Homo sapiens: one gene and its partners. The protein of the gene in region 3 purifies or fractionates together with the protein of the main gene of each other region. This does not show direct contact. Each region holds a gene or a part of one and is shown on either strand. Other genes may lie near its edges. The genes, in order: CCDC12, SLC44A1 and LDAF1.

Region 1 (3,652 bases), on a different chromosome or scaffold from region 3:
TGGGATTATAACAAGCTTGTCCAACCCGCAGACCAAGGCCCAGGACCACTTCAAATGCAGCCCAACACAAATTCGTAAACTTTCCTAAAACATTATGAGATATTTTTTGTGATTTTTTTTTTAAAGCTCATCAGCTATCATTAGTGTTACTGCATATTATGTGTGGCCCAAGACAATTCTTCTTCCATTGTGGCCCAGGGAAGCCAGAAGATTGGACACCCCTGGATAACAGGCATGAGCCACTGTGCCTGGCCGGTAGCCACATTTCAAGGGCTTGAAAGTCACAGGTGGCCCATGGCTACAGTACTAGACAGTGCAGATTAAAGAACACTATCACTGCACAAAGTTCTAGTGAGCAACACTGCTGCTCTAATCTCTAGAGCCAGGTGACAACCAGGAATTGCTGGTTGCCTGGAACCTGCAACTTGACAGCCAGACCTCAGCCCCAAGGGCTGGTCAGCCAGACAGCCAGTCTCCCTGTCTCAGAGCAGCAAGAGACAGCCCAATTCAGGGCAATCGCTCAGGAAAGCTTGGCATGTTTATGCCAAGTTAATCATCACCTTTAGAGAGCCTCCATTTGGCTGCTGAAGAAGAAAGAGGTCAAAGGAGGACAGAGTGGCCTCACACTGCCCTGCCGGACAGCACTGTAAAGAGATGCCAGAGTTTCATCCACACAGCCTTGAACTGTTCACCTACTCACCCAGCCAGGAACTTCTGGATGAGCATCAGGAAATGAGGTTCAAATACAATACAGAAAAGTGTGCCCAGGCTGGCTACCATCCCTGCTGGAAACCCTGGCTCTTGCAAAACTTGGCTACCAGAGTACCCCAGTCCAGCACTTTCAGACTGTACCCCTGCCCCTGTATCACTGCCAAGTGCTTGCTGTCAAACTCCCTGGAGCATCTCCACTCTCACCTCTATGCACCTGAATGTTCCCACCTCTAAAATGCTCCCTGGGAACACTCTCCTTTCCAGCTACCTCGATGACCTTCTCCCACTTCCCCATCCTCCGTGGCTCAGCTCAAGTTCCATGCTGCCTTCCCATGAAGCTTCCTCAGGCTCTGCCTGGCTTTCCCAGAAAATGAACCCCAGCAGTACTGTCTTTCTGCGTGTCAACGGGAACTGGCTGACCTACAAGATGCTGCTTCAGGCAGTGCTGTGTCCTCTACAGAATCCCCTTCCCCCAGGGGGTCTTGCATGGGCTGGAATCCTGGAATCCAGGAGACATTACTTCCCCTCCTCAGCCTTGGACATCCCAGCTCTCCTCAGCCTCTTGCCTTGCTCCTCTCACTAATAAGTGGCATCAGGTGGGCTGACCAGGACGTCTTTGTAAAACTACAGCTGCATGACTACAAGAGAGTTTTGCGCAGAATAATACACGGAAACATTGCAACCCCTAATCTTGTCTCTTTCCATCTGCCACAACCTCAGGACCCTGAATTGTCTTAATATCACTAAATTATGAGTTTATAGTCTGGTGAGAGTTAGGAAGAAAGATAAAACTGTGAGGAAAACCAACTCCATGCCTGAAATTCCTAAGGCCTCCAGCAAAACCATGCCCACAGTAAGAACTCAATGAAGGACCTGCCACTGAGTGCTAGGAAACCAGCAAGATGCCATCCTCATGGGGCAGACAGGTGCTCTCCAAGTGCAGGCAGAGAAGGTGCTCAATCCTGGTGTCTGTTGTCACATCAGAAACCTGAACTAAAAATGTGAAGCCGCTTCCTCTCTGAAGGAGGAGACTCAAGGGGTTTTATCTGGCCACAGCAGGCAGTCATACTTCCTCACCAGACTCCCCACTTAAAAGGTCCAGCAGAAAGGGCCACAGGCTGGAAAATCAACTCAAAGGTTAGACCCTTACCTGTCCTGTCCCCAGGCATTCACCTTAATAAAAAAAATCACTCAAGAACTATAGGGATTAAATATGACACTAAAAATACATGCAACAAAATCAAAAACAGATAAATTGAACTTCATCAAATTTTAAACTCTTTGCGCAGCAAATGAGACTATCCACCAGGTGCGGTGGTTCACACCTGTAATCCCAACACTTTGGGAGGCCAAAGCAGGAGGACTGCCTGAGGCCAGGTGTTTGAGATCAGCTTGGGAAACACAGTGAGACCCCCATCTCTACAAAAAATTAATTTTTAAAAAAATGACACTACTAAGAGAATGAAAAGATAATCCAGAGAATGGGAAAAAATATCACTAATCTCATCTCTAATAATGATTTAATATCCAGAATATATGAACAATTCAATGACAACTCAATAACAAGAAAAAGAGCCCAATTAAAAATATGGGCAAAAGGAATCTGGATACTTCTTCAAAGAAAATATATATACAAGTGGCAAACAAGCATATGAAAGGATGTTCAACATCACTCATCACTGGGGAAATGCAAATCAAAACCACAATGGGATACCACCACTTCACACCCATTAGGAAGGTTATAATTAAAAAAACGAAAAAAGAAGATGGCTGGGCTTGGTGGCTCACACTTGTAATCCTAGCATTTTTGGAGGCCAAGGCAGGAGGATCACTTGAACCCAGGAGTTCAAGACCGGCCTGGGGCAACACAGTGAGACTCCTGACTCCTTTAAAAAAAAAAAAAGAAAGAAAGAAAATAAAATAATAAGTGCTGGGGAGGATGTGGAGAAACTGGAAGCCTTGCACACTGCTGCTGGGAATGTAAATGGTGCAGCCACTACTGAAAACACTATGGTGTTTCCTCAAAAAGCTAAACAGAATTATCATATGATCCAGCTGTTTTCCCTACACATAATTACATTCCTCTCCCTGCTATATAAACCCCTGATTTTAGTTCGTCGAAAAGACAGATTTGAGACTGATCTCCCTTCTCCTCACCTGACATCACCCGAATTTAAAAAAAAAAAAAAGGCCCAGTGTGGTGGCTCACGCCTGTAATCCCAGCACTTTGGGAGGCCGAGGTGGGTGGATCACCTGAGGTCAGGAGTTTGAGACCAGCCTGACCAACATGGTGACACCCTGTCTCTACTAAAATAAAAAATTAGCTGGGCGTGGTGGCATACACCTGTAATCCCAGCTACTGGGGAGGCTAAGGCAGGAGAATCGCTTGAACCCAGGAGGTGGAAGTTGCAGTGAGCTGAGATCGTGCCATCGCACTCCAGCCTGGGCAACAAGAGCGAAGCTCCATCTCAAAAAAAAAAAAAAAAAATTAATCCCAGCTACTCGAGAGGCTGAGACAGGAAAATTGCTTGAACCCAGGAGGCGGAGGCTGCAGTGAGCTGAGATTGCACCATTGCATTCCAGCCTGGGCAACAAGAGCGAAACTCCATCTCAAAAAAAAAAAAACAAGAATTACCATATGATCCAGTAATTCCACTTCTGGCTATCTACCCAAAAGAATTTAAAGCAGATACTCAAACAGGTATCTGTACTCCCATGTTTCTTCTTTTCTTTTTTTTTTTTTTTTTTGAGATGGAGTCTCACTCTGTCGCCCAGGCTGGAGTGCAGTGGCGCATCTCAGCTCACTGCAAGCTCCGCCTCCCAGGTTCACGTCATTCTCCTGCCTCAGCCTCCCAAGTAGCTGGGACTACAGGCGCCCACCACCGCGCTCGGCTAATTTTTTGTATTTTTAATAGAGACAGGTTTTCACTGTGTTAGCCAG
Region 2 (3,752 bases), on a different chromosome or scaffold from region 3:
GATTAACCTGAAAGGAAACTAGAAAGAATGCAGAAGAATTCAAGATCTCAATCAGTTGAGTACTTGCTGACCTAGCAGCACTTTCTTATGTTATTTAATCTTGACCACAAGCCTTTGCAGTCATCCCTGCTACCAGCATTTCACAGAAGCGGACAATGAGATTTGGAGAGATAACTCGTCCACAGTCACGAACTCAGGAAATGGCATAGGAAAACATCAATTAGGAATTCTTCTTCCCTGGCCCTTTCTGTAGCTGTCCCCTTACAGGCTACCATTCCAACTTTCCTTGGCTTAGATTCCCTTTCAGTGCATGTAAAGTCAATTTAATTCTGTGTTCTTTTCTTCCCTCTATACTTTAACTAATCTTTAAAACTTGATGTCTCATATTTGGTGAATCAGTCCTTTTGGAAGTCTCACTCCCTTGCAGCTTTGCAAATAAAGTTTTTCTTTTCTTTCCTGTGGCTGTCTTTTGAGACATTCTTTGACAAGATGAAATGACATATGAAGGCTATAACAGTGCCTGATAATGTGGGGTTTTTTTTAACATCATTATCTTTAGTTTTATTTCTTTCACTTTTTAACTGTTTTCACCTCATACTGTATTTCCTAACGACTCGTTTGGAATTGTAAATTTCTTGAAGGTAGTTACCACGTCTACTCTAACTTGTTGCTACTTCCTTGAGTCTTACTGATTTAGCAACAGGAACTTGGTAAGTCTCTTTTGCTCGCCTCTTTATTCCCAGTACTAGTCACTGGAACGTAGTGTGTCTTCAGTAAGTATTTTTAATATGAATAAATTAATGTCCCCTTATTGTTTTTTGTAGACTATCCTGTATAAGAAAGTTTAGCTTAGATCCAGTATGGCTTTGACTTGCGAGCCTGGATAACTTTTTGCCTTTTCCTCATTTCTGGCTATTTATTACCATTTCAACCTTGGGAACATTTCATTAGGTTCTTGGTCCCTTTCAAGCCTCAGTTTCCACATCAGCAAAATGGGGACAGTAGCAACAGATGCTTGTTTCTTCCCGTCTTCTTATCACCTATTCCTTCTCCAGGAAAGGTTTCTTGTGTACGCTTTCCTCTGGAGAAAAAAAACAGCCGACGGGGCGGTAAGAAGCCATCAGGATCCTGAGTTGTGCGTCCAGTAGGGAGAGGGAGAAGTCCCGCTTGCCTCCTAGATCCGGAAGCAATCCGGCCCCTTTTTGGCAGCGAGTTGGCCCGGTCTTTGGCTGCCTCAGACCGCGTTGCCCTCCAGCCTCGAGGCAGAGAGCTGCCTCGGTGCCACAGCTAAATAAGCCCGGCGCCGCGCAGCCTCTGACACGCGCGGAAGGGCCCGGCCTTGTTCTGGCTGCCGCCGCCCTGCCACCAGCACGGCGCTGCACTGGGGGCGGGGAGTCTGATGGGAGACGCGCGCGGCGCTGAGGAGGCGGCGGCCCGGGAGAGGGAGCGGGAGAGGGACTGGGCGCGGGAGGCGGGAGGCGGGGGGACAGAGGGAGGCGCCGCCGCCGCCGCCGCCCGCCCCTTTCCGCTGGGGAGCAGCTGCTGCAGCAGGAGCAGAGCAGGAGACGCGTAGCCGCCGTCGCCGCCGCCGGGGGATGTGGCCGGCGCCTGCCTCTAGCCGCGCCGCCTCTTGAGTACCAGCCGCCGCTGCAGCCGCCGCCGCCGCCTAGCCGTGCGGTGCCAGGCCGCGCCCTCCCCGGGCGCCCGCCGGCTCGCATGCCGAGGGGCTCCGGGGCGTAGCTGCGCGCCCGGCGCCGCCTCCGGGCTCCTTCGGCCCCGCCATGGGCTGCTGCAGCTCCGCCTCCTCCGCCGCGCAGGTGAGGGGCTCCCGCCTCCCGGCCGCCCGCCCGGATGCCTCCCGTGCGCCGCGTCGCGCGGCGGGCGCCCGCCGCCCGATACCTCTCGCTGTCCCCAGCCTCCCCTGAGCGCACCGTGCAGTCCAAAGACCCCCACTCCGCCTTTCCGTCCGCCGGGTCCCGCCGATGCCCGTGCGCTGGCTCCGCGGCTGCCGACTCAAAGGCGCCTCTGCGCGGCGCCTAGTGCGCCCTCAGCTCTTCCCGGCCCCTTCCCCAGTCGGCCCCCTCCTCCCAGTCACACCTGAGCTGCCCGTCCCGCCCGCCTGCAGGTAGAGGCTGCACTGGCGCCTCCTCTGCCCCAGGTGGCATCCCCTTCCCTGTTCTTCCGGGCCTGGCTCCTCTCTTCCACCTCCGTGGAGTCTCCCCGCCATCCGCCGCCCGTTTTCTGTGCTCCTCGCAGGTGTACCCCCAGCAAGAGCTCTTCACCTCTCCCACCGAATTCCAGTTTCTGCTTCATTAGATATTCTGTCCCTTTTCTCTTGCCCGCTGCCCCCTGGCTGGGTTCAGATGGTTTCAGCGGGTCCCGGAGCCCTTCCACGGCCCGCTCCGCAGACCTCGCTTGCTCGCTTGCACCCCATCCCCCCTTAGTGCCGTGACCCGGGCCCCGCGGCCTCCCCGCACTCGGAGGCCCCTGCGGGAGCGCCGACTCTGGGCTGGGAAGGAGATTGGGCACCTGGTGGGTGACGGGAGCGCTACGGAAACTCCCTCTTTGTTGCCAGTGTAACAGGAGGAAGAGGTTCCGAATTTAGTTTTTCTGTGGGCACTGGCTGAATGTTGTCGCTGAGGGCTGAGATGCAGAGATTTCTCTCAGCTTCTACCCTGCCCCCATCCAAATTTCGCCAACCTCCTTCTCTCGGATCCGAGCCCTTAACCTGGGTGGAAATGTTTAGACAACTGTACGAGGATCAAATGTAATAGAACTCGACTACTGGCCACTAATAACTGAGAGGACCTGTTTGTAAATTACCTAATTTAGTGGATTAGCGAGTGTATTTACAAATACTATAAAAAGCAATCAGGAATACTGCATCAAACTGTCTTGTGGTGGTGTATGAAAAATAGGCTCTGACAACGCCTGGGATGTAATCTCACAGTTTCATTAGCGTAGTTTCATTAACTGTGGTCTGTGATTTGTTTGTTTTAGGGGGCAGAAAAGGGCTCTTGTTTTTAGAAATAAAGGATGGTTGGTTCTTGGTGAAGAAAAACGCTAGTTTGGGGGGAAAAAATTCCTCCAGAAAGCTAGCATCTGTGATAATGCCAGAAGTGTTTTTGCTGCTGCTAAATGACTATATATAACTCAGTTTTAAATAACCTGCATACTTGTTCTGAAAATCTGAGATCTGTTAGAGAGAAAATGACTAGAATTGCAGATGAATGGGGGACATTTGTGTTTTATTAGGTATCCATCCTATCATCCTATTCCTCCAGTCTTTTTTTTTTTTTTTTGAGTGTTTGCTTACCCGTTAGCTTTTTTTTTTCCTGCTAGCATTATAGTCAGGCTTTTTGGTGTAGTTAAAGATTCCTATTCAGTTATAATAGCAAAGTAAAACTATACGTAGAGGTGTTAGGAAGGAGAGGCTTGGTATATCAGAGTTTTCATATTAACATATAAAGGTGTAGAATTGCACATAACTTTCAACTGGTTAGGAATTTGTGGGGGTCTAGTTGGGTGCTCTTTAATATTTACTTAAGTATAATTTTCACCAAAAAGGTGTTTTTCAGATTGCCTTTCTTTTCAGAATTGAGTTAATTTACATTCCCTTTTGGTGGTGAAATGCCTTTAAGACAGAAAAGTATTGATAGTTTATGGATAGCTTGTTCAGTGCATGAACAGTTAAATTTGGGAGGGATGGGTGCTGCATCAGAACTCTGCTTTAAAACCGATAGTGGGTCTTG
Region 3 (2,873 bases):
AACTTTATTTACAAAGACAGGCAGCTTGCTGGATTTGGCCAACCATTGCTCTATAAGAACTGATATCCTGAGTTTTGTTTTTCTACAAAACAGCCCTTGAACTCCTTACCAAAAGTTTATCCTGTTATTATTCCTATGTTGAAAAATAAAGGGTGAAGTGGGTATAATATAAAATTGCTCAAGGATGGCTCTTATAGGATTGCTTAATTGAATCAACCCTGGAGTCATAATCACCTTTTCAAAAATCGCTTTGATCACTCTTAGTCTTTTGTTTGTTCATTTGTATTTTACTTATAAAATGGGGTCTTGCTGTGTTGCCCAGGCCATTCTCAAACTCCTGGCTTCAAGCAATCCTCCCCCGTTGGCCTCTCAATGAACTGGAATTATAGGCGTAAGGCACTAACTCACTCCCAGTCTTAAAAGATGTAAAAGGAGAAATATTGGCCTATTTTGCATATTGAGGGTGATGCTTCTGAAATAAAATTCCTCCCTGCCTCTGAACGCTGCTGTAACAGGGTGAGTTCTTAAAGATTATACCACAGGAAGTAGCAGAATCTGACTCCCTACTTATCAATGAAGAAATTGAAAAACAAATCCAGGATTTGTACTTGATCTCCTTATCTTCCCCTATTGCTGCCAACCAATTGTTTCCACGTGGGCAGAGGTTCTTAAGCTTTTTGTTCTCAAGTCCCATTTTACCTTCTTAAAAATTATTGAGGCATCTGAAGAGATGTTATTTATGTGGTTAATTGTATTAATAGCACTTTGGGAGGCCAAGGAGGGAAGATCACTTGAGGCCAGGGGTTTAAGACCAACCTAGGCAACATGGCAAGACCACATCTCTACAAAAAATACAAAAATTAGCCAACTGTGGTGGTGCGTGCCTGTAGTCCCAGCTACTCAGGAGGCTGAGATGGGAGGATCATTTGGGCCCAGGAGTTCAAGGCTGCAGTGAGCTGTGATCACACCATTGCACTCCAGCCTGGGCAACAGAGCAAGACCCTGTCTCAAAAAACAAATGAAATGAGCTGAAATATAAAATAAATAACTAACATGACATAAAACTATATACAATAAAATAAATTAAAATAAACATAACATAAATTACATTAAATCAAATTAAATATTAGCTGGTGCATGCTTGTGGTCCCAGCTACTCAAGAGGCTGAGGAGGGAGGATGGCCTGAGCCTGGGAGGTTGGGGGTGCAGTGAGCTATGATTGTACCACTGCACTCCAGCCTGGGTGACAGAGCTAGACTCTGTCTGGAAAAAAAAAAAAAAAGAATATTAATAATTATTTCTTTTTAAAAAATTTTCTTCCTCATTGTTTCTTGTTCTGAAATAATTATTCTATGAGAAATCATAGCATAAATTTTAAAAATATCTATTCATTTAAAAGGAACAATATTACCTGTTGATATAAATAACAAATTTTAATGAAAAGTAACTATATTTTCCAAAACAAAATGAAATTTGTGAGTGGTATTATTTTACATTTTACAGATCTCTTTCATATCTGCCTTAACAGTTGTCAGCCGGCTTCTCGTTTGTGTGGCTGCATTCATTCTGTTGTGCTATGTTGTCCTGTTTGGAGTATTTGAAGAAGACCTAGCATCACTAACATGCGGTTGGGAGAGGGAGGCAAAGCTTTTTTAAACGATTGTGGATATTCTATGATAGTCCACCAAAACTCCGTAAGTGATAGTTTCTTAAAGGTTAGCTGAAATGTGAAATTTTTCTACTCTATTTTATTGAAATCTTCAGGTCTGTGTCACACTTTAAATTGATCTTTATCATGCATGATTTTCTAACTTTACCCATTGGTCAATGGGAGAATATCAATTCATTGAGTCATGCAGATCTTCCAAATATATTTTGAAAAATTGCACTGTTCCCTTGTGAGAGAATGTGAGTGAAAAAGGCATATAATAGGTCATGTTATTGTGAACATGGTTTTCATCTGAGAACCCTTGCATTAGCGAATTCTTTTTTTTTTTTTTTTTTTTGAGACGAGTCTCACTCTCACCCAGGCTGGAGTGCAGTGGCTTGATCTTGGTTCACACAACCTCTCCCTTCTGGGTTCAAGCAGTTCTTCTGTCTCAGCCTCCCGAGTAGCTGGGATTATAGGTGTGCACCACCATGCATGGCTAATTTTTGTGTTTTTAGTAGAGGTGGGGTTTCACCATGTTGGCCAGGCTGGTCTTGAACTCCTGAGCTCAAGTGATCCACCCACCTCAGCCTCCCAAGATGCTGGGATTATAGGTGTAAGCCACTGTACCCAGCCTGCATTAGTGAATTCTTTATAACTCAAAAAAAGATAACTCCCTCATTAAATGATCGAAAGCATGGAATGGGGGGAAGAGGAGCTATATAATTTATTTCATGATTTAATGGAATTTTGGCCCTAAAACATAAAAGATAATACAGCTTAAATTTTTAAAAAAGAAAAGAAAAAGGAAACAAAACTGTAAGTTTCCCTTACATATGAAACCCAACTAAACAATATTTAGATCAAATACACTGACCTGCCTCCTATGTAGATCAGCTAGCCTCTGAGGGGCAAAACCACACTGCTTGGTTATGGAGACTGCAAGACCTTCCAGGGCCTGCAGCTCAGGAGAAGTAGGGGCCCTGGGCAGCTGTGTTTATTTGCAGAGCCACCAAACTCACTACCCCATATCATAATCTTCCAAACCAGCCTGAGCATAACTAGCTTCCTTACATCTTTACTAAGAAAAGGAAAGGCTTCTTTCTTAGTTTTTTGTTATCAGGGAGGAATGGTTTAGGTGGCAAATAATGAAAAAAACCAAAGTAGATACTAGTTTAAACACACAGGGAACTTTTTTTTATTGCTTAATGAAAAACTGGAGACA

Evidence for each region.
Region 1: the proteins of LDAF1 (region 3) and CCDC12 purify together in Homo sapiens (affinity purification with mass spectrometry; one large-scale study listed by BioGRID and IntAct). This does not show direct contact.
Region 2: the proteins of LDAF1 (region 3) and SLC44A1 purify together in Homo sapiens (affinity purification with mass spectrometry; one large-scale study listed by BioGRID and IntAct). This does not show direct contact.

Annotation. Positions count from the first base shown.
Region 1 is NC_000003.12:46,970,173-46,973,824, forward strand, and holds part of CCDC12 (coiled-coil domain-containing protein 12), read right to left. Parts: intron 1-3,652.
Region 2 is NC_000009.12:105,243,088-105,246,839, forward strand, and holds the start of SLC44A1 (choline transporter-like protein 1), read left to right. Parts: upstream 1-1,563; 5' UTR 1,564-1,781; coding exon 1,782-1,817; intron 1,818-1,931; exon of another isoform or gene 1,932-2,506; intron 2,507-3,752.
Region 3 is NC_000016.10:21,175,634-21,178,506, forward strand, and holds part of LDAF1 (lipid droplet assembly factor 1), read left to right. Parts: intron 1-1,503; coding exon of another isoform or gene 1,504-1,525; exon of another isoform or gene 1,526-1,528; coding exon of another isoform or gene 1,529-1,601; exon of another isoform or gene 1,602-2,873. UniProt on the Homo sapiens protein: Plays an important role in the formation of lipid droplets (LD) which are storage organelles at the center of lipid and energy homeostasis. In association with BSCL2/seipin, defines the sites of LD formation in the endoplasmic reticulum.